Regions from separate parts of the Homo sapiens genome. Here region 2 is linked to region 1. The links come from fine-mapping of genetic effects on gene expression. A gene starts in region 1. The other region holds a variant in brackets. All regions are shown on one strand. Distances are from middle to middle.

Region 1 (12,154 bases):
AGGTGGGTGGATCACTTGAGGTCAGGAGTTCAAGACCAGCCTGGCCAACATGGAGAAACCCTGTCTCTACTAAAAATACAAAAACTAGATGGGTGTGGTGGTGGGTGCCTGTAATCCCAGCTACTTGGGAGGCTGAAGCAGGAGAATCACTTGAGCCCAGGAGGTGGAGCTTGCAGTGAGCTGCAATCACGTCACTGCACTCCAGCCTGGACAACAGAGTGAAACTCCATCTCAAAGAAAAAACAAGACAAAAGACAAGTGTTGGTCTGGATGCAGAGAAAAGGGAACCCTTGCACCCTGTTGGTGGGAATGTGAATTAGTATAGCCTTTATGGAAAACAGTATGGCGGTTCCTCAAAACATTAAGAATAGTCTGGGCATGGAGGCTCATGCCTATAATCCCAGCACTTTGGGAGGCCAAGGCAGGCAAATCACAAGGTCAGGAGTTTGAGACCAGCTTGGCCAACATGGTGAAACCCTGTCTCTACTAAAAATACAAAAAATTAGCTGGGCGTGGTGGCGTGTGCCTGTAATCTCAGCTACTCCGGAGGCTGAGATAGGAGAATCGCTTGAACCTGGGAGGCGGAGGTTGCAGTGAGCTGAGATCGCTCCGCTGCACTCCAGCCTGGGTGAGAGAGTGAGACTCCATCTCAAAATAAAAAATAAAAAACATTAAGAATAGAACTACTTTATGATCCAGGAATCCCACTACTGGGTATATATCCAAAGGACCTGAAATTAGCATGTCAAAGAGATTTGTATTCCCATGTTCATTGCAGCATTATTCACAACAGCCAACACATGGAAACAACCACAGTGCCCAACAACACACGAATGAATAAAGAAAAATGTACATATAGACAACGGGGTACTATTCAGCCTTAAAAAAAGAAGGAAACTGTATCATTTGCGACAACATGGATGAACCTGGGAGATGTTATGTTATGTGAAATAAACCAGGCACAAAACAAGAAATACTGCATGATTTCACTTACATGTAGAGTGTGAAAAAAATCAAGCTTAGACCAAGAATGGTGGCTCAGACCTGTAATCCCATTCATTGCTTTGGGAGGCTGAGACAGGAGGATCCCTTGAGACCAGGAGTTTGAGACCAGCCTGGGCAACACAGGGAAACCCTGTCTCTGGAGAAAAGAGTAAAAAACAATTAGCTAGGCATGGTGGCATGTGCCTGTGGTCCTAGCTACTCGGTAGGCTGAGGCAGGAGGATCCTTTCAGGCCAGGAATTTGAGGCTCCAGTGAGCTATGCTGGTTCCACTGCACTCCAGCCTAGGCAAAAGAATGAGACCCTGTGTCAAATAAACAAAACAAAAAGTCAAACTCATAGAAATAGAGAGTAAAATGATGGTCACCAGAGGCCGGGGGCAGGTAGAGGAATTGGAAAAGTGTTAGTCAAAGGACACAAATTTTCAGTTAGACAAGAGGAGTAAGTTCAAGAGATCTATGTTACATCATGATGGCTAGAGTTAACAACATAGTGTATATTTGCAAAAAAATGATAAGGATGTAAGATAATAAATATGTTAAAAAGCTTGATTTGGCCGGGTGCAGTGGCTCATGCCTGTAATCCCAGCACTTTGGGAGACTGAGGTGTGCGGATCACTTGAGGTCAGGAGTTCGAGACCAGCCTGGCCAACATGGCAAAACCCCGTCTCTACTAAAAATACAAAAATTAGCCAGGCTTGGTGGCGCAAGCCTGTAATCCCAGCTATTCAGGAGGCTAAGGCAGGAGAATCGCTTGAACCTGGGAGGTGGAAGTTGCAGTGAGCCAAGATCGTGCCACTGCACTCTGGCCTGGGTGACAGAGCGAGACTCCGTCTCAAAAAAAAAAAAAAAAAAAAAAAAATTTAATCATTGATTAACTCTTCTACAATGTATACATATATGAAAACGTGATGTACACCATAAATGTATACAATCTTTGTTAAAATTTTAAAAATATGCATAAAGAAATAATGATTTTTGTGGGAACTATTTTAACATAATTTCACACTTATGGTTCTCGACTACTTTTCTAATAAACTACTATCTCTCTTTGCCAAGGGAAACAGAAAAAAACAGTATCATTAGCTGGCAGTGGACTCAAATAGGAGAGTTTCAGTTATTCCAAATTTCTGTGGCTTACCATATAATTCAGTCCTATGTAAAAATCTGCAATTGGTAACAGTGACTACTGAGTTTGGACCCAAGTATTTGCACTAAAGCTTTGACACATTAGATAGGTTCCTTTCGTTTTCTTTTTTCTTTTTTTCTGAGACGGAGTCTCACTCTGTTGCCCAGGTTGGAGTGCAGTGGTGTGATCTCAGCTCACTGCAAGTTCCGCCTCCCAGGTTCACGCCATTCTCCTGCCTCAGCCTCCCGAGTAGCTGGGACTACAGGTGCCCTCCACCACGCCCGGCTAATTTTTTGTATTTTTAGTAGAGACGGGGTTTCACCATGTTAGCCAGGATGGCCTCGATCTCCTGACCTCATGATCCGCCCGCCTCGGCCTCCCAAAGTGCTGGGATTACAGGCGTGAGCCACAACGCCCGGCCTCTTTTGTTTTTTAAGTTGAGGCAGGGTCTTAGTCTGTCACCCAGGCTGGAATGCAGTGGTGCAGTCACAGCTCACTGCAGCCTTGACCTCCCAGGCTCAAGCGATCCTCCTACTGCAGCCTCCCGAGTAGTTGGAACCACAGGTGTGTGTCCCCACGCTGGCTTTTTTTTAAAATTTTTATAGGGTCTCCTCATTACCCACAGCTAATCTTAAACTCCTGGGCTCAAGTGATCCTCCCACTTCGGCCTCTCAAAGTGTTGAGATTATAGGAATGAGTTGCCACGCTCAGTCATAGACAGGTTACTTTCTCATCTCTCTTAACAAGTTTCTTCCTCTTAAAAAAAACAAACAAAAAACTTAGGGCTAATGAATAGTGAGGAATTAGTGAGGTCAAGCGTTAAGCTCCTGATACAGGTCAAAGACTTGTTGAAAGGTTTAATTAAGGCAAAGGTTATGGTTGGAGAGTCAATATTTTGGACGTGAAATGATTTTTGGTGAAAACAAAGTTGAGGGTGTGTTAGCAGCTACAGTGGAGTGCTGAAAATCTTACCGGAGATGAGAAAGTCGAGGAAGTGAGAGGAGCGTGGCTGAGAGGCCATCATGTGGACCTTGAGCTCACCAAATATGACAAAATTTGGGGCGGAGAGGCAGCAAGCCATGAGCCAAATAAGGGGCATCAACCAGGAGGCTGGCTAATGACATTAACCAAGATAGTATATCTAGAGGGTGAAGCCCCAATGGAACAGGGATTTTGTGGGAGGGAGGGGAAGATAAACACTGGTCTAGAAATGGCATTGGGATGGAGAGGAATACACTTACCCACTTCTGACACTGAGGCACGTGAGAATGAGAAACAGAATTCACCTAATAGAGCTGCTGGAGAAGCAGCGGTTAGTGGATAGCCAAGTTTCAGATAAAGCAAGGATGCTGAGAAAAGGCTGAGGATGTGGAAGAGTTTGCTGATCACACGTTGCAGAAGGCACAGTGGGAGGGTATGGTTAGGAGCAGGAAGCAGAGTCTGATAGATTGCCAGTGTGAGGGCAATGGATGAGAAGGGACTTGAACCTGTGGTGGTGACTGGGGTAGACAGGGATAGAGGGGTGATGGGATATAGTGCTGTTGTAGAAGTTTCTGTGATGATAGACATGTTCCATATGTATACTGTGTAATACTGTGGCTGCTAGCCACATATGGCTATTAAGCATATGAAATGTGGCTAGTGGGCCGGGCGCGGTGGCTCATGCCTGTAATTCCCAGCACTTTGGGAGGCCGAGGCAGGTGGATCACTTGAGGTCAGGAGTTCGAGACTGGCCTGGCCAACATGGTGAAACCCCGTCTCTACTTAAACTATAAAAATTAGCCGGGTGTGGTGGTGGGCGCCTGTAATCCCAGCTACTCGGGAGGCTGAGACAGAAGAATTGCTTGAACCTGGGAGGCAGAGGTTGCAGTGAGCTGAGATCATCCCACTGCACTCCAGCTTAGGTGACAGAATGAGACTCGGTTTCAAACAAAAGAAAAAGAAATGTGGCTAGTGGGACTGAGGAATTGAACTTTTAACTTTATTTCATGTTAATTAATTTAGATTTGAAGACCTCAGTTTTTGTGAATTTTTCACTTGCTGACCAGGTGGCTATCAGGGTGGCCACTCCTTTAAACAGAAAGCTGTCCAGAGAGCTTCTGACTCTTCCACCATGCAGATCCAGAGAAAGCACAGGATCAGGCAACTTGGGATCCAAATTCTAACTATACCACTTAATCGCTTTGAATTAAAGCTAGCATGTTAACATGTCTGGTATAGACAGACCCTCAATAAATATTGGATGACAGAATAAATCTCTCTGAGGTTTAATTCTCTTCATCCTTAAAACGAGGGTGGAGAGCTGTTCTAAAATTTAGTACTTTACCCATGATGCTCAATAAATGGTCGCTATTATTGACATAGTGAGTTCTCAATATTTGTTGATTCATGGGTCAAAAACTGTCCTTCAGGTTAAAGGGTTACTTGGCCAGGAATGGGCTGGCAGAAGTGAGACATTCCAGCTCCCTCTGAGGGTCCAGGAGGATTGCCCAGGTCTCTGGGACTATGCGATGGGGTAGATCAGGGCTGGGTTTAAATGTCCAATTTTGCTAAGTACTAATGTAAGAACATACCTGACTTGAACCTGGAGGAGTAGGTAGGGATAGCTGAGGGACAAAGTGGAGGATCTTAAAGTGAACCAGAGTATGAGACCAGCCTTGCCTGAATATCTAGTGATAATCCGGGCAGTTTCGGTATCATTTACCACTTTAATTTGTGTTGAAAAAGCCTTAGCTTGGTAGCTCCAGCCTTCCTTCTGTGCCTCCATCCCCATCATCCAAAACCCAAAAGCATGCTGTTTGTGAAGGAGAGTAACCATATCCTGAGATGACTCCAATGTGAGATGTTTGTGAACTGAAAGTCATAGTGACCGCCGATCTGGAGTGTCACCCTTTCTCTGAGTTATCACTCTTTCTGCAAAGCTGTCCCTAATTCCCTAAATTACTTTCTCTGTGGCATTCCTCAGATTGAGCACTTACTTACCTGGTATTGTGATGACCTGTGTCTCTCCCCTTGACCGGATTGTGACATCCAAGGCAGGAACCTTGCCTGGTTGATTATGGCGTATTCTTGGACTCTAGCACATGCCTGGAGCATACAGTAAGTAGCTATTCAATAATTATTTGTTGGCCGGGTGCGGTGGCTCATGCCTGTAATCCCAGTACTTTTGGAGGCCGAGGCAGGTGGATCACCTGAAGTCAGGAGTTCAAGACCAGCTTGGGCAACATGGTGAAACCTCGTCTCTACTAAAAATACAAAAATTAGCCGGGCATGGTGGTACATGTCTGTAATCCCAGCTACTCAGGAGGCTGAGGCAGGAGAATCGCTTGAACCCGGGAGGTGGAGGTTGCAGTGAGCTGAGATTGTGCCACTGCACTCCAGCCTGGGCCACAGAGAGAGACTCCATCTCAAAAATAAGTAAATAAATAAAATAATTATTTGTTGAATAACTGAATGGATGTAATCTGAGGTGACAGAGTGACCCACTGTGATCTGAGATAATGTGACCTCTCTTGATTGCAATCTGGGTTGACTGTGAACAGAGTCGGGGCTTTTGATGATTGTGTTGAAGTGTCTGTGATTGTAACCTACAAGGACTGTGATCTGAGGGGTCTGCGCACCGGTGACTGTGGCCTTCAGGCACTAATCTGTCATAAGGACCAGTAGGGATAATGAATGGAGGTGACTGAACTAGTAACCTTGCATGATCGATTGAAGTAACTTGCACTGATTGTGATCTGAAGTGACCGTGAACAAGTTAGTGACGACGCTTTCCACGACTGTCTTGTTGTGACTGTGCTCATGATCTACAGAGTTCTGGCTTCAGATGACCTAAGCCAGTGCTTGGAGCAGCCTTGACGATTGACATGAGATGTGTGCGAGATGCTGAGATTGTTGATCTACCCTGACAGCTGAGGTTATTGATCTGCATTATGAGCTGAGATAACAGATCTGTGGGCCTGGACTCAGACTAGGAATGGTGCTAATATGTGTGTAGTTCTCTTAAGATTTCTGATTTTGTTTTAATATCCTCCCAAATGGCACAGCCCTGTTCGGCCCCACGCCAACAAGGAATAGGGATGAGGACCAGGTTGAGTCAATCCTCACAGAAAACTACCGGAAACACAACGCATCTTCTGGGCCGCGCTGCCGCAGCTGCGGGCAGACCCACCGCCTTGGTCATGGCCTCCTGCACAGCCTGCCCTTCGTTCGGACCCCCTAGCCCTACCCCCACGATCGGTCCGTGGTGCGCCTGCGCGGAGGCGGGGCGGTGCTTTGCCCTTTGTTGTGGGCCCCAGTTTCCCAGGACACCGCGCGGCGCTGGGGTGGGGCTATGCAGATGAGGCACTCGGGGGCGGGGCGGCGGCGGCGGCGGCGGCGGTGGCGGCCGGGGAGGGTCAGTTGGAGGCAGGCGCTCGCTGAGGCAAAAGGAGGCGCTCGGCCCGCGGCCTGACAGGGACTTAGCCCGCAGAGATCGACCCCGCGCGCGTGACCCCACACCCACCCACTCATCCATCTATCCACTCCCTGCGCCGCCTCCTCCCACCCTGAGCAGAGCCGCCGAGGATGATAAACACCCAGGACAGGTAACGGCCCGGCCCAGGCTCCCCGCCCCCATCCTCCCTCATCTGCTCCAGAGGGCCTCTCACGTACCCCTAGCCGGCCCCCGCCCCCCGCAGCGGGGCCATCCGCCCCCAGCCAGGTCCGTTCACCACTTCAGCCACCCTAGTCCGGTCCTCAGCCCTGCAACTGGGCCTTCTTCTGTCCTTTAGCCCCCTCTTCAGCCGGGCCCATCCCCCTCATCCGGGCCTTCTCCTCCCCTAAAGCCCCCAAAAGCCGGAACCCAACCTTCCAAGCAAGTCCCCTTTTTTCTTTCAGCCCCACCGAATTGTGCCCCATTCCCCAAACTGGGCTTTCCCCGGCATCCAGATTCCCCAAATTGTTTCCTGTCTTCCTCAAATCTTTCTTACTCCCCTTATAAGTCACTTCACCCTTCCCTTTGAATTCCCTCCCTGATGAAAACTGCACCCCCCACCCAGACTCTTCTCATATCACTGCCCCCCGCAAAGTCAACCTCCATCCTTCAGTTCTCAGTTTACCCCCACTCATCACCCTCCCCCCATTCTCTTCAGGCCTAGCAGTCCTTACACAGATGTCCAGCCTCTTCCTCCTGGTCCCATACTTCAGCTTCATCTTTCCCCCACCTTCCCCTCTCCACACCCCTCTCCCAGTTAGGCCCCATTTTCCCAGTCTCCCAGCGCCATTCCTTTTATTTATCAAACACCAGGTTTGATTCTTGTGCTCCATCCTGTTGCCCCAATGGTATACCCCCAACACTCTTGGAAACATTCTTACCCTCTAAACATCTTTTCTCAGCTGGAACTCATCCTTCTCCTTCCCCTCTTAACTGAATCCCGTCTTTGGATCATTAGATCACAGGACCCAGCCATCTCGCTTCCAGTGAACCTTCCCCCTGTACCTCCAGTGCCTTCAAACCAAGCTCTATATTCTGGACACTAGATCTTTGCAATTTCCTCCCTCAAAACCCGACCCTAGTCTTCCCCCATTAATTAGAGAAAGGCTGCACATCTTTCTCAGACCGAGCACCCTGGTTTTCCAAACTTGCATGGTATATCCTTCCCCCTGCAGATAGTTCCTCAATTTTCCTTTCTCTACATGCCTCTCTTTCTCCAAGACAACCCTTCTCACCTATCTCTCCCTCAAATTTTAATATATCCCATATTTCTGCCTCTGTTCTCTGAAACTGTTCCACAATTTCCTAATTCCCCGGAATTTTTAATCCTAGTTGCTCCTTATACATCAGAATGGCTTTCATTTACAATTTGGACCTAATTCTCTTCCTCATTTTTTCCCCAAACTTGTTGCTGTCCTGTCCAAACCGTGTCTGAAGCTCATTAGTTCCCCACACCAGACCTTTTGTCCCCAGATTTGGCCTTATGGCCTCTGCCTCTCACTTGGGCCTCATTATTTTGCAAGCAGATCCATTCCCTGTAAATCTTCCTTAAATTGGGCCATGTTCTATTCAGAATTAGACTAGTTCCTCTCAAATGCATTGCCTTCTTTATTGCTTTTCTTTGCATAGAGCCCTCTAACTGCCACTCAGGATTCCTCTCAAACTTGGGCACTCTTCTTACTGAAATAGTCTCTCAACTTTCCTTTCCCACTTGTTAACAGCACCAGCCTTAAATATTCCAACTGGGTTTTCAGCTTTTCTTGTATTTCAGTGTTTCTTACCCTGGCTTCACATTTGAGAAATCAGTCACTTGGGCCTTACCTTCAAAGATTGGTCTCATTGGCCTAGAGTGTCCTGATTATTAGCATATAGTTTTAAAGCTCCCCAGGTAATTCTTTATAATGCAAAGCTGGGGTTAAAAACCACAGCTTCCTTCCTGCAGCTTTTCCCATCCTATTCCTGTAGTGGGTGTCAGCCCTTTTCTACTGACAAAGGCCTAATTTTCTTCGAGGAATATTTTTTTTTTTTTTTTTTTTTGAGACAGGGTCTCACTCTGTGGCGCAGGCTGGAGTGCAGTGGTGCGATCTGGGCTCACTGCAACCTCTGCCTCCTGGGCTCAATTTCTTCAGGGATTTCTTAGTCTTTCTCTCTCAGGTGCTGTCCAGAAGTGCCCAAGATACAATACCTGCAACAGCTTCTGAAGTTCCTGTCTGTACTCAGTTCTCAGCCATTGGCCATTTTCTTCCCCCAAGTCTCAGACTCTTAACTGGTGCCCTCCCCCTCATTTCTTCTTTGCATGCAGGAAGAAAATTCACTCGCCGTTTGATAATTTGTTATGGTCTTATTTGACCTGTTATCCCTGCCTCCCATGTTCTCTTTACCCTACAACCCATCAGCTGTTAGAGTTTCCTTTTCCAAGACTCTCCATGTCCATCCCCTCTGCATTCCCCCCTTTCACTCCATCTTCTGTAACCCAGCCCCTCGGGAGCTGAGGAGGTGGAGGCGGATATAGACACGGAGAGTGCTGGATGCAAAGGTGTTACTTGTGGCAAAGGCGCCGTGTGTGCTGAGGATAGATGGCAGGTATGAGAGAGGGCAGGATGAAGCACAGGGGTGGAGGGGAGCAGAGAGACCTACAACAAAACCCACTCAAGGGGTATGTGAGATAGACTTTTTTTTCTGTTCTTTTTGTGTGTCTGTAGTGGGGGTTGGAAAGTGGGGTGGTCTCAGCAGTCATTCTCTGGAGTCCTCTGGACTGAGCTGGTCGAAATGCCGAGTCTTTTGTAGGCTGAGCCCTGAGAGTTGAGCAACTTGGAACCAACATGTAAGAGTCTTCACCAACTGTGAGGTTGAAAGACCTGAGTTCTGGCTGAGCCAGTGTGCTTACATGTGAAAAGAAGAGGGGGTTGGGTTAACTTGACTCGAAAATTCTTTCCAGCTTCCTAAGTGGCAAAACAGGCTTGCTTGTCTCCAGGGCCCTTGCTTAGCGTGTTGGTAATTTGAGGGGCCTGGCTGTATGAGAGGCAGGTGGAGAGAGGAGCCAACTGGCCTGCCAGGGCCTGGGTAGGAGCTAGGCCTTGGATCAGGCTCCTCCACTTGGCCTGGGGGTGGGGTGTTGTGTGCAGGGTGTCTGGTTTCTTTGAGTGATGGCAATCCCATTTCCATAGCGTGTTTCCTAGATTCCTTGGGCCTGCCCCTAACTTTCTAAAAGGAATCCTGGTAGAGTCCTAACTAGGGATTCTGATAAGAGCCGGATGTTCTTCCCAGTCAGTGTTCTCGAGTGTTTCATATCCATAGAGTGGGGAGCTGGCTGGGAATTTAGCTCCCATTGGGTGGGGGATGGGATTTTCAGCTTCCCTGGCTCCAGTGAAAAACTCAGGAGGTGGAGGCTTGGTTTCCTGGAAGAAATAGTTGCAGAGGAGCTGGCACTATGTTTTGAAAACAAGGCTCTTCCTTTCCAGTGTTATTCTGATTGGTACTTCCAAAATGTCAGAATTCCTGATGGTGGGGGAGGGAAGAAGATACAAGTACGAGCACCTTTATTATCCTTTTTGAACATGAGGTTTAAATCCAAGGAAATCAAGCTTCCTGGTCTTTTTCTCCCTGGATTTGTGGGGGCAGGGAGACAGTATCTGTCCAGGGCTTGCTTTGTACCTGTGACAGTACAGTATGTAGAGAAGCACTAGCCCTGGCTTGATAGTGATATTATTATCAATCTGTGCTGATGGGCTTTGAGGAGAAACATTTGGTTCTGCAGGTGGTTTTTTGGGGGAAGGGGGCAGGGCATAAGAACATATCAGAACTATCAGCATCTTCACTGAGTGGTTTCCTGGGTAATGGAATTTCTGTCTCTTCCTAAAGGGTCTGGTTTCAGTTATTCCTTATTTATTGACAATATGGCTTGTTGGGCATGGGGTGGTAGGGAGAGCCAGTTTTCCAATGATGTGCCTTCAAGGTCACTCTATGGTAGGAGGGTTGGGGGAGAGGAGAGAGGGGAGAGAGAGAGGAGAGAGTCAAAGAGGAGAGAGAGAGAGACAGACACAGACTCTCCTAGTATAGTCAGGAATCCCCCAAAATCAGAGCTATGCTTCAGAAAGCAGTGTGGGCTAATAATAGCAATTCCTCACTCTGCCAAGAAATCCAAATTTAGCCTCAGAGCTGCTCAAAAATATAAAAAAGGGGACTGAGGAGTGGGATAGAGGGATGTTACAAATGTGCATTTCTAGAAAAACAAAATGAGTAATTCATCCCTTTTTGAAAGAGTATGCAGTGTTGATTCAAGTTGGTGCCATGATTTAGAAGGTTATGAAGCCAAAGTTACAGACCAGGCCAGGCATGGTGGCTCACACCTGTAATCCCAGCACTTTGGGAGGCTGAGACGATTGCTTGAGCCCAGGAGTTCAAGACCAGCCTGGGCAACATAGTGAGATGCCCCATCTCTTAAAAAAAAAAAAAAAAGTTATAGACAAGAAAGGGACAAGTAGGCAGGCAAGAATTTTGTCACTTAAAGTGAACAAAACAGGTAGTGTCCGGTTAGCAGCAGTAGTGTAAAATGCTTTGTATAAGATAAACCTTAAGAAAATTTCTTAGTCCTTTGATACTATATAAACAATGATGTAATTCTGTCCTGGGAAGAGGCTGGCACTGTGTGATGACCTTACTCTGCAAACTAGATTGAGGTACTTAATATGTAAAAGTAAAGTCTTATATTAAAGCTTGATTACCTAGCTATCCACTCACCTCTGGTAGCATATGTGATTGTGCGTTCCTTTGGCATATGTACCAATATCAGCTGTGTGATAAGCAAACCCCAAAGGCACAGATATTCTAGCTATCACTATAACTGTGTTTCTTGTGGAGAATCAACCAAAACCCAATTTTGCTTTCAGCCTGTGATTCAGAGTGGTGATGTCATTTTCTTTATAATTGTGCTTAGCAAGAAGAGTCCCTGTGGAACGCAGAATAGCCCTAGTGAAATGACTTTTGCCTGGCATCTGCCCAGGGGCCCTTTCTCAGATGGAAGGGGCATCGGTAGCTGGAAATCAGCCTCTACAGCCACACTAGACTGGAGGTGGTCATCACCCTCTCACCTTTCTTACTTTCTATTTTGCTAAGTGATGGCACATCTTTTTGCGTAGGGATTAGTCATCAAAGACATTCCTAGTCTCAGAGTAAAAGCTACCTGTATGAGGGAAGTGAGGGCACCTTTGGGTGTTCTATGAGGCAGGGCCTGAGACAAGAATGGGTCAGAAGAGGTTGAGAGGGGGAAATGAATGTAGAACTGTGTTGGGAATGTGGTTTTCATGTCTTCAATTGATACCAAAAGGTAGCTAATACCAAGGCCATCTGACTTTCTCTGACAGGTAATAGAAACCAGAGAGAAAGGGTGCAGAATTGAATGAGCGAAGGAGGCTACTGATTCAAGTGAAACATGATCAGAAGTATATTAAGGAGAATTTGAATTCAAGTATTTTTTAGATGTAGCTAAGTGGAAGTTACTCACAGAATTACTTTTATATGGAATCTCTTCTCTGTGTACTCTGTACTCTT
Region 2 (12,154 bases), 410 kb after region 1:
TTGCATACAGATATCAGTAAAATGCAGACTCTGATTTAGGATGTCTGAGGTGGAGCCCCAAATTCTGCATATTTTTACAAATTCCAGGTGATGCAGATGCTGTTGGTCTTTTAAGAAGGACATAAGGCCTTGGTTTAATTCAGACTCTGCCCCTGAAAAGAAAAGAGTAAATCCTTACTCAGTAATACCCAGGCTTAGTCTGCAAGGATATACAGTACATCCTGTTTGGAGAAATTTTCCAAAAGATAATTTGTTTGCGTTTCTTCCTGGAGTTTCCAGCATTAGAATTAAGTTAGAACTCCAAGGAGAAGTTAGGCAATTTTATTTCCCAACTAAGGCAATGGATTTTCTATTTCAATTATGAATTTATGGGTGAGATGGAAAATAATGACAAAATTAATCTGTCTAAAAATGTGAGATTGGGAAGAAGGTACATTGGGTATTTATATATATATATAAAATTTTTTTTTTTTTGAGATGGAGTCTTACTCTGTCGCCCAGGCTGGAGTGCAGTGGCGCGATCTCGGCTCACTGCAAGCTCTGCCTCCCGGGTTCATGCCATTCTCCTGCCTCAACCTCCCAAGTAGCTGGGACTACAGGCATCCGCCACCACGCCCGGCTAATTTTGTTTTTGTATTTTTAGTAGAGACAGGGTTTCACCATGTTAGCCAGGATGGTCTTGATCCTCTGACTTCGTGATCCGCCCGCCTCGGCCTCCCAAAGTGCTGGGATTACAGGCGTGAGCCACCGCGCCCGGCCATTTATATACTTTTTAATGGCTCTCCCTTGATGAGTGGGATAGAGAAAATAAAAGGCCGTATAAATATATGAAGTTGGAAATTAGCCTGGAGAATGTGGAAAGGTCATCTTTTAGGCTAAAGTGTTTTCTTTTCCTTCATAGCTCTTGAGACTGTGGATTAATGTGAAGACTCATTGTAAGAAACTTTGGCCCTTTGGGGGGAGTGGTGGGAGGGTGGGAACATAATGTAATTATGTTTGTTACCTCTGCTACTTCTTTTTCTTTTTGAGATGGAGTGTTGCTCTGTCACCCAGGCTGGAGTGCAGTGGTGCGATCTCAGCTCACTGCAACCTCCTCTTCCCAGGTTCAAGTGATTCTTGTGCCTCATCCTCCAGAGTAGCTGGGACTTACAGGCATGTGCCACCATGCCCAGCTTATTTTTTTTTTTTTTGTATTTTTGTGGAGACGGGCTCTTGCCATATTGGCCAGGCTGGTCTTGACCTCCTGGCCTCAAGTGATCCACCCGCCTCGGCCTCCCAAAGTGCTGGGATTACAGGCTGAGCCACTACGCCTGACCACCTCTGCTACTTGTGATGGTCCTGCATAGAGAACATGGACAAAATCTTATCTCTGATCCCCCATAGAGAGCCTTGGAGAAACATCACTATACTAGCCAGAGACCATTTGAATTTAAGAATGATGAGAATGGATTTATTTTTACTGTTAGAAGGCTGACAACCTGGAAATTCAGGACTTAATTAGGATAATGAAAGGATCTTTATATTTAGAATTGTGTTCGGGTTACCAAAGCCAGCAGATGCTACTTACAATACGAGTAAGATGTGTAATTACTGCTTTACTTTCTAGCAATCACAGAGTTGCTTTAACGAATAGTTCTGTGAATATTTCTTTATGTCATAAATTGACTGTAACATCACAGTACTACTTGGATGGATTAAATAATTATGACATAAACATCCATAAAATGATTGCTAAGAGGCAGTTTCTAAAGCATCTAAATCTTTGAATTCTCAAAACATCAGACAATTGTTTCATTTCTGTGAAAGTGAAGAAAAACCTTGGTGAATTAAAAGTGGAAATCTGTTTAATCACTGAAGTCTAGATTTGTATTATAAGTTTACGTGGGAAGGGAAAAATTCATTCAGTTAAAAGCATACATTTATAGCCCATATATATTTTCAGAGTAGTATTGTGTTTTGTTTCCTCTTTGAATCTGAGATAATTTTGATGTTTCTCATTTGGACTTGCCTGTAGTCAGAAGAACTTGTCTTTCTTTTCATGTGCTTTTACTCTTCTCTGCTTATCAAGTTTTCATTAGCCCTGGGACCATACTGTTATGGCCTTGTATCTAGAAAAGATACTTTCAGAATTATCTGGCATCTTCCTGACAATAGAGTGGGCTGCATACCCCATTCCGTCATTTTCTTGTTCTAATATTAGCGAGGAGAAGATTGTAAACTACAAAATTCCAAAGTCAAGGCAGGTGCAGTCAGCCTACATCATGGCTACCACCTACAAAGCTCTGCTTCTCTAAACTAATTTCCTTTCCTAGACACACAGTCTGTCAAACAGCCAAGTGCATTTCTTCTTATTCTTTTTTTTTTTTTGAGAGACAGGGTCTTGCTCTGTTACCCGCCCTGGAGTGCAGTGGCATGATCATAGCTCACGCAGCCTCCAACTCCCAGGCTCAAGCGATCCTCCTACTTCAGCCTCCTTAATAGCTAGTGCATAAGAACACGCCCAGCTAATTTTTTTATTTTTAAATGTTTTGTAGAGATGATGTTTTGCAGGCTGGTCTTGAACTCCTGGCCTCAAGCGATTCTCCTGCCTTGGCCTTCCAAAGTGTTGGGATTACAGATGTGAGCCGCCACACCTGACCAACCGTGTGCATTTCTGCTTCAGAGCCTTTACACTTGCAATTCCTTCTGCTTGCAGAATTATTTCCCTAAAATTTTGCGTAGTGGGTTGTTTCTCATCCTTTAGGCCTCAGCTTATGTCTTACCTTCTCAGAGAAACATTCTATCACTTGTTCCTCATTCTCATTTAAAATAGCACGTTTCTTCTCTAGCACATCCTGTCTCGTCAAACTGCTTTATTTTATTCATTGCATTCATCACTATCTGAAATGACCATATGTATGTTTCCCTATTAATTGCCTCTCCTTACTTGAATATAAGCCCTTTAAAGGGCAGGGATTCTTTCTGTATTGTTTACTGTTATTTATGAGATGGAAGGATAAAAAGCTGATGAATAGGAAGAGGGGGGAAAATAAAGCATACTTTCTTTGGGCTCCAGGTTTATGTGGGGGTGGTGGTAGATAGTAGACCTATCGGTTCCAAACAGCAAAAAAAAAAAAAAAAAAAAAAAAGTAACGATAGTGCATTTTGGTTCTCTGCAAATGTTTCCACCCCATTATACAGTTTTCTTTTTTTTTTTTCTTTTAGATGGAGTTTTGCTCTTTTTGCCCAGGCTAGAGTGCAGTGGCACAATCTCGGCTCACTGCAACCTCTGCCTCCCGGGTTCAAGTGATTCTCCTGTCTCAGCCTCCCAAGTAGCTGGGATTACAGGCGTGTGCCTCCATGCCCGGCTAATTTTTTATTTTTAGTTGAGGCAGGGTTTCACCATGTTGGCCAGGCTGGTCTCGAACTCCTGACCTCAGGTGATCTGCCCACGTCAGCCTCCCAAAGTGCTAGGATTACAGGCGTGAGCCACTGCACCCAGCCTTCATCATACATTTAACAACTATTTCTTGAATATTTACTGATACTAGACTCTGGGAAGGATAGAAATAAGAAGATATAGTTTTTGTCTCTACAAATACCACAGTCTAGTGGTAGACAGAGAAAAACAAATTGCAATACAAAGTGATAATATAGCAGATTGGGGGCTGGGTGTAGTGGCTTATGCCTGTAATCCCAGCACTTTGGGAGGCCAAGGCAGGCAGATGACTTGAGCTTAGGATTTCAATACCAACATGAGCAACGTGGCAAAACCTCGTCTCTACAAAAAATACAAAAATTAGCTGGGTGTGGTGGTATGCACCTGTAGTCCTAGCTACTTGGGAGGCTGAGATGGGAGGATGGCTTGAGCCTGGGAGCCTGATGCTACCATGAGCCAAGATCACATCACTGCACTCCAGCCTGGGCGACAGAGTGAGACCGTGTCTCAAACAAACAAAAAACCAGATTGTATGGAAACTACATTGGCAGAGAAGGTTAATAAAGGCTTCAAAGAGGAGGTATGATTTGATGATAGGACAGGATTTCTGCTGGTAGACATAAGGAAGAAGAGCTTGTGCAGGATACACAATCACTAGATACTGTGCAAGTGCCCAGCATATCACAGCAGCATTTAGTTATACATGACTGGGTCATAGGATGTGAAGTGAAAGAAAAGTAATAGAATGAAGCTTTTAGGTAAGTTGGGACGAAATTGTGAAGTGTTTGCATATATTAAAGCATTTGGACTTTATCCTGTAGGCAATGGGGTCGAATCATCAGGAGTTTTACAACAGAGTGACATAATCTAGTTTATATTCCAGAAAGAGAATTCGGGTTGTATTGTAAGATTAGATCAAATAGGAAAGAAGTTGACATCTTGTAGATTTTGCTCTAATTGTAATACTTATCATGTTGTACTTTATTCTTCCATTTCTCTCTCCCAAGATAGGTGTAAGGGTATTACTTTGCTTTTTAGTCCTCATATTCTAATTCCTTTCACTGTGTGTGGTATGTAATGGGTACTCAAGAAAGGCTGAATTGTCCAGGTCAGAAGTAGCAGGGCCTTTGGTCTTAGCTCTGAAAATGGAAGTGAGATGGAGAGAGGACAGGGTAAATTAGAAATTTTAGACATAGACTTTAGGCAGGATTTAGTCACTAATTATTTGATGGGAAGAAGTCAAAGATGACTAAATGTGCCAGCTTGAAGAGACCTTATAAATGAGGAAGATGTAAACCCATTTATGCCGGAAGCTGCAAATTTTTTTGTGAAAAATCAGACCTTGGTGATGACCTCGAGCAGTGTATATAAATAACTCCCACCAGCCTAGCGTTCCAATAATGGAACACTAGGCATAAATGAGTTAATTGAGATAGTAAATATAGGACTAGGGAGAGTGGTTGGGAAGGCAGGTAAGATAGAGTTTGTGAATATTTGAGGACTGGGTGACACATATGCAGAAATGCATATCTGAGACTTAGAAAGTTAGGCTTGAGATAGGGATTAAGAAATCACACCAAACTAGAGATGGGGTTTCACCATGTTAGCCAGGATGGTCTTGATCTCCTGACCTTGTGATCTACCCACCTCGGCCTCCCAAAGTGCTGGGATTATAGGCATGAGCCACCGCGCCTGGCCACCCCCCGACCCTCTTTTTTTTTTTTTTTTTTTTTTTGAGACGAAGTTTCACTCTTGTTGTCCAGGCTGGAGTGCAATGGCACGATCTTGGCTCACTGCAACCTCCGCCTCCTGAGTTCAAGCGATTCTCCTGCCTCAGTCTCCCAAGTAGCTGGGATTACAGGCACCTGCCACAACGCCCAGCTAATTTTTTGTATTTTTTGTAGAGACGGGGTTTCACCATGTTGGCCAGGCTGGTCTTGAACTCCTGACCTCAGGTGATCTGCCTGCCTTGGCCTCCCAAAGTGCTGGGATTACAGGTATGAGCCACCACTCCTGGCCCTTCCCTATCTTTTTAAAATGAGCCATGTGTATTTTGTAATCAGCAAAAAGTAGTAATCAAAGCAAAACAATTTCATTAAAGCAAATTTTTTTAAAAAGAAAATACACTTATTGCTTAAAATTTTTTTTTAATTCTACTTTAGAGGTGTCTGTGGAGATAACCAGTAATGATGGTTTAATTTTCTACAGCTCAAAAATGTGTATTAGGACATATTTTAGAAATGCAATCAAATTGTGCTCTAAGCTTCCTCTTATGGCTGGGCGTGGTGCCTCATGCCTGTAATCCCAGCCCTTTGAGAGGCCGAGGTGGGCGGATCACCTGAGATCAGGAGTTTGAGACCAGCCTGGCCAACATGGTGAAACCCCATCTCTACTAAAAATACAAAGAATTAGCCGGGCTTGGTGACGGACGCCTGTAATCCCAGCTACTCGGAAGGCTGAGACAGGAGAACCAGTTGAACCTGGGAGATGGAGGTTGCAGTGAGCTGAGACTGCACCACTGCACTCCAGCCTGGGAGACAGAGTGAGACTCCGTCTCAAAAAAAGAAGCCTCTTTTTATTGCTTAATAGAGCATGAACATCTTGTTTCAACTTAAATATATCTCATCAATTTTAAATATTTCTATAGTATTCAATTTAGCCATTATCAATATACACAAAAATTATTTTGTATTTTAATACTATAATTAATACAGTACTCCTGCAGTCCCCAACTTTTTTGGCACCAGGGACCCATTTCATGGAAGACAATTTTTCCATGTACCAGGGGTGGAGGATGGTTTCAGGATGAAACTGTTCCACCCTAGATCATCAAGTATTAGATGTAGGCTAGATCCCTCACATGCACAGTAATAGGGTTTGCACTCCTGTGAGAATCTAATGCTGCCACTGATCTTTCAGGTGGCACTCAGGTGGTAATGCTTGCTTACCCACTGCTCACCTCCTGCCATGCAGCCTGGTTCCTAACAGGGCCACGGACTGGCACTGGTCTACTCGATCTCCTTGTATTTAAAGTTGGTTTAATTTCTTAGACTACATCCTGGAAGCGTACTTTTTGTGTCAAAGGATATGTACGTTTGCAATTTT[G/A]TTACACATTGTCAGTTTGCCCTCCAAAAAGATGTTTCACTTTGTGTGTATGTGTGTCCTTGTGCTTATTTCCTCCAGTGCTTCAGAAATCTTAAACAATATCAAGAATCTTTTCATCTATGACAGTCTGATAGGGGAAAATGGTATTACTTAAATGTGTATGTGTTCATAGGTGAAGTTAAACATACTTACACATATTTGCTTATTTTTTTAAAGAGTATTTCTATGTGGCCTTTGCTCATTTTCAATGGAAAGATTATTTCTGTGGAGTCTTTTGTGTACTGCCTCAATGAAAGGAGAATTATGAAGATTTAAGACAGAAGGGAAAATTGATGGATAGTGATTGTGTAGGTAGGAGGACATGATGGGATGAAAACAGATTTTATAGATTGATACTAACTGAAAATCATGGGGAATCTTGTGAGAACTTTCTCATTTTTAAAGTTTTGAGCCTTCTGCTGAATCAGGCCTGGAAAGAATCATGTAAACATTAAAATAAAATTATTTTCCTCTAGAGTTAAGAAAATATACATCCTCAATGTACAAATAATTGCTGATGTTTTTCTTAGTTGCAAGAATAAGTAGATAGATGATATTTATTTATTTATTTATTTATGAGATGGAGTCTCGCTCTATCACCAGGCTGGAGTGCAGTGGCGCGATATTGGCTCACTGCAACCTCTGCCTCCCAGGTTCAAGCAGTTCTCCTGCCTCAGCCTCCTGAGTAGCTGGGATTACAGGTGCCCGCCACCATGCCCGGCTAATTATTTTTTGTATTTTTTTAATAGAGACAGGTTTCACCAAGTTGGCCAGGATGGTCTCTATCTCCTAAGCTAGTGATCCAGCCACCTCGGCCTCCCAAAGTGCTAGGATTACAGGCATGGGCCACTGCACCTGGCTGGTGATATTTCTTTCACATCCACATAGGGGTGCACGTATGTTTATGGGAGACCTGTTAGACTAGAGAGACAGGCGTATGATTTTAATAATATTCATATTATCCTTTTGAAGTAGGATAGAGTGAGAGGATGTTTTTACTTGCATACAACAAAATGGAGGCACAACAAATTAACCTTTTTGATCTTTTCCATCTTTGGTGTCTGATGAAATATGCAAAAATGCATTAACACAGGATACTTCTGACAAAGGTAAATAAATTGGCTAAGGGTAGCAGCTTGTTCTGTGACACTCCTGCATGGCTTCTAAAGTAAGACACTTATTTCTGTGATTGATGTAGGATTTATATGACAGGCTCTGCATATTGTTCTTTCCTTGTCTGAATTACTGAACTGTCACTTGTGAACTTAAATTGGAACTTTTTTTTTTTTTTTTTGTGACGGAGTCTCGCTCTGTCGCCCAGGCTGGAGTGCAGTGGCTCGATCTTGGCTGACTGCAAGCTCCGCCTCCCAGGTTCACACCATTCTCCTGCCTAAGCCTCCCGACTAGCTGGGACTACAGGCGCCTGCCACCACGCCTGACTAATTTTTTTTTTTAATATGTGTATTTTTAGTAGAGACGAGGTTTCACCATGTTAGCCAGGATGGCCTCGATCTCCTGACCTTGTGATCCACCTGCCTCGGCCTCCCAAAGTGCTGGGATTACAGGCGTGAGCCACTGCGCCCTGCTTTTATTGGAACTTTTAACTTCTGCTACTAGCTTTTCTTTTTTTGGCAGTTGTAATTATTAACAATTTACAGATGAATACTATCTAAAGCAGTTCATTTCATATTATATCCCACAGTCTTAGATCCATTATTTTCCACTCCAAGTCAATGAGAAAAGAAAAGTGAGCAGGCAGAACTCTCCATGTTATCTGTTTTATACATTTTATACATTTGAGTTTTCAATAAGATTTTGTTTGAAAGGTATGATTCTGCTGCTTTAAACATTTTTGAAAATCATCTGAGAGAATGCAGGCTTAAGATGAAACATAATTTTATTTTATTTTATTTTTGAGATGGAGTTTCACTCTTGTTGCCCAGGCTGGAGTGCAATGGCATGATCTTAGCTCACCGCAACCTCCACCTCCTGGATTCAAGCAATTCTCCTGCCTCAGGCTTCTGAGTAGCTGGGATTACAGGTGCCCACCACCACACCCAGCTAATTTTTTGTATTTTTAGTAAAGATGGGGTTTCACCATGTTGGCCAGGCTGGTCTCAAACTCCTGACTTCAAGTGATCTGCCCGCTTCAGCCTCCCAAAGTGCTGGGATTACAGGCGTGAGCCACTGCACCCAGACCAAAATGTAACATAATTTAAAGGTATTTCTTCTCTAGTTCAAAATGAAGCCATTTTAAAATCAAATTTTTGCTTTTAAGTTAATAGTTTCTTAGAAAATCATGGTATTTTAAACAAATGAAAGTGTATCAGCCAAACACCTAATTAACCAGAAACATTGATATATATTTGTAACCTTGTTAAAGTTTTCTTATAAATTTACAAATTTTTAGGTTCTGTGGATGGAACAAACTAAAACAAGTTTTAGAAGTCATGTCATTCTTCTGCTTAAGTGATTAAAAATAGGAGTCTTGGCTGGGCATGGTGGCTCACGCCTGTAATCTCAGCACTTTGGGAGGCCAAAGCAGACAGATCATCTGAGGTCAGGAGTTGGAGACCAGCCTGGCCAACGTGGTGAAACCCCGTCTCTACTGAAAATACAAAAATTAGCCAGGCATGGTTGTGGGCGCCTGTAATCCCAGCTACTCGGGAGGCTGAGGTGAGCTGAGATCGTGCCATTGCACTCTAGTCTGGGTGACAAGAACGAGACTCTGTCTCAAAAAAAATAAATTAATTGAATTAAATTAAATTAAATTATAACTTTAGATAAAATGCATTCTAATTTTTTTGTTGTTATGTGGATATATTCCCTAATGGTGAAGTCTGGGTTTTTTTGTGTAACTATCACCTGAATAATATGCATTGTATCCATTAAATAATTTCTCATTTCTCACCTCTTTCCCACCCTTTTAAGTCTTCAGTGTCTATTATTCCACACTCTGTGTCCATGTGTACACATTATTTAGCTCCCACTTATAAGTGAAAGCATGCATTTTTTGATTTTCTGTTTCTGAGTTGTTTCACTTAAGTTAATGGCCTGCAGTTCCATCCATGTTGCTGCAAAAAACGTGAAATTTTATTATTTTTTTAAGGGCGGAATAGTAGTTCATTGCCTGTCTGCCTGTGTGTGTGTGTGTGTGTAAAATGTGTGTGTGTATGTGTATGTGTATATATATATATAAAATCATCCATGAGGGACACTTGTTTCCGTATTTTTGGCGATAAACATAACATATGCAGGTGTCTTTTTGATGTAATGATTTCTTTTCCTTTGGGTAGGTACCCATTAGTGAGATTGCAGGATCAAATGGTGGTTTTAGTTTTTTGGGAAACTTCCATACTGTTTTTCATAAAGGGTGCACTCATTTACATTCCCGCCAACAGTGTATAAGTGTTCTCTCTTCTCTGCACCCATGCCAACATCTTTTATTTTTTGACTTTTTAATAATAGCCATTCTTAGGAGTGTAAAAGGCTTATTGGAAAAACCAACAAAACAAAAAATAATAATAATAGCCATTCTGACTGGTATAAAATTATATCTTATTGTGGTTTTAATTTGCATCTCTCTGCTGATTAGTTCTTTTGAGCGTTTTTTCATATGCTTCTTGGTCATTTGTATGTCATTCAAATGTCATTCAAATGAAGTCATTTGTATGTCTTCATTTGAAAAATGTTCATGTCCTTTGCTCACTTTTAGATGAGGTTATACGGTTTTTTGTTATTGTTTGTTTAAGTTCCTTGTAAATTCTTACAATTAGTATTGTAAATACTATAATATCCTTGTAATTGGATATTAGTTTCCTGTTAGATGCAGTTTGCAAATATTTTCTCCCATTCAGCAGGTTGTCTGTTCACTCTCTTATTTCTTTTGCTGTGCAGATGCTTTTTAGTTTAATTAAGTCCCATTTGTCTATTTTGTTTTTGTTGTGCATTTTAATTTTCTTGGAAGAATATCAAATGTATATGAGATTCTTGTTTGTAGTAGTATCGTAGTTTAAATTTCTTTTGGAATTACACCCTAGTTTAACTTAAGCACAATTTGTTAAGGTTAAGCAGTTTTAACAGATCTTGGAGAAGAATTATTTCTGTCAATAGCATAATCCATCAAAATAAAGTAGAAATGAAGAGTTCTAACCACATTAGGTGACACACAGTCTGCATTGCATTAATATGGTAATTTTAGAAGTGTCACAGATACAATACTTGCAAGATTATGCATTGACATCTTGAATGGTTAACCAGAAGAATGTAATGGTAAAATTTCCAGGCTTGCCAAACAATTCCGGAATTTTTTTTTTTTTTTTTTGATACAGAGTCTCACTTGTTCGCCCAGGCTGGAGTGCAGTGTTGCAATCTCGGCTCGCTGCAGCCTTCATCTCCTGGGTTCAAGTGATTCTCGTGCCTTGCCTCAGCCTCTGGAGTGGCTGGGGTTACAGGCGTGCACCACCACGGCCGGCTAATTTTTGTATTTTTAGTGGAGATGGGGTTTCGCCATGTTGGTCAGGCTGGTCTCAAACTCCTGAGATCAGGTGATCTGCCCACCTTGGCTTCCCAAAGTCCTGGGATTACAGGCATGAGCCACCATGTCTGGCCACAATTTTTGAGGAGGACTATGAAAGTAGGATGGTTATGGGCAACAGAAGTTTATAGAAAGATGTGTTTATGAGGGTGATTCAGAAGCAGTATTTACATGATGTCATCATGCATCCTAAGGAAAAAACTGTCTGAACTTATGGCCTACTTTTCCAGAAGGCGGCAAAGCTTTTGTCAAAGAAAGTGGAGCTTACTGCCAGCTGTTGTGGGCTTTCAAAGAGCAGGTGATGCTGGATTGATTCAATTTTTTTTTTCTATGTTGGGGTTACTAGGACAAGAGGAAATATATATATATACACATGCACACAAACACACACACACATACACACATATATATATATAACTTTATAAAGTATCATGTAATATTTTTTATAATTTATCTTTAATTCCAATAACTAGGTTACATAGATTCTAAAGTTCTGAATCCTATAGGCAAGTGGTTCAATTATTTTATCCATGTCGTCTAGATACCTCCTTATTTCTAAATATTATTTCTTAATTTTTTCAATATTAGATGTTGTTATTGATTGTCTCACAGATGCCATCCCTAATGACGTACATACCTTGCCCATATTCTCCCAATATACTTATGTCATATTTTTTGGTTCAATAATTTTTTTACATTTACAGCTTTATGGCTGTGGAAGTATTGTTTACAACCAATCTATGAGAGCACTGTTACTGTATTTCCTTTTTAGTATGACTCCATCATTCCTTCCCTCAGAATTAAAAATTGCTGATACTTGATTTTTAAAAAAAATTCTTAGTTATCAATATACCTTTCATTAATTTTTTTTCCTCAAGTCCAACAATTAAAAAATTTGTCATGATATTAGGTAATTCTGTGTTTAGATTCCTTTTCTGCTGGATGGCTTAGTTTTGCTAAGTCATTTACCATTTGTTTATTCAATTCTCATCTTCCAAAATGTTGACATCTCTAGTCTACTGTTTCCTCACCTGTTCTCTTTGTCCTTTCTTGTT

Evidence for each region. PIP is the estimated chance that this variant, and not a neighbour inherited with it, causes the effect.
Region 2: its variant is fine-mapped to the expression of OAZ2 in whole blood (TOPMed, PIP 0.98).

What each region holds. Positions count from the first base shown.
Region 1 is chr15:64,697,591-64,709,744 of GRCh38, reverse strand. It overlaps OAZ2 (ornithine decarboxylase antizyme 2), which reads left to right and starts at 6,464. Exons shown (of 5, transcript NM_002537.3): 1 at 6,464-6,716. The coding sequence starts at 6,697. It overlaps LOC124903507 (a long non-coding RNA gene), which reads right to left and starts at 5,202. Exons shown (of 3, transcript XR_007064679.1): 1 at 5,113-5,202. RefSeq lists silencers at 6,329-6,648, 6,659-6,878 and enhancers at 8,507-9,344, 9,345-10,181.
Region 2 is chr15:64,287,912-64,300,065 of GRCh38, reverse strand. The region is part of intron 2 of CSNK1G1 (casein kinase 1 gamma 1); the gene reads left to right. Among named protein-coding and RNA genes, the nearest start is that of CSNK1G1, 62 kb to the left of the region's middle. The variant G/A (reference allele first, on the strand shown) is at 6,524.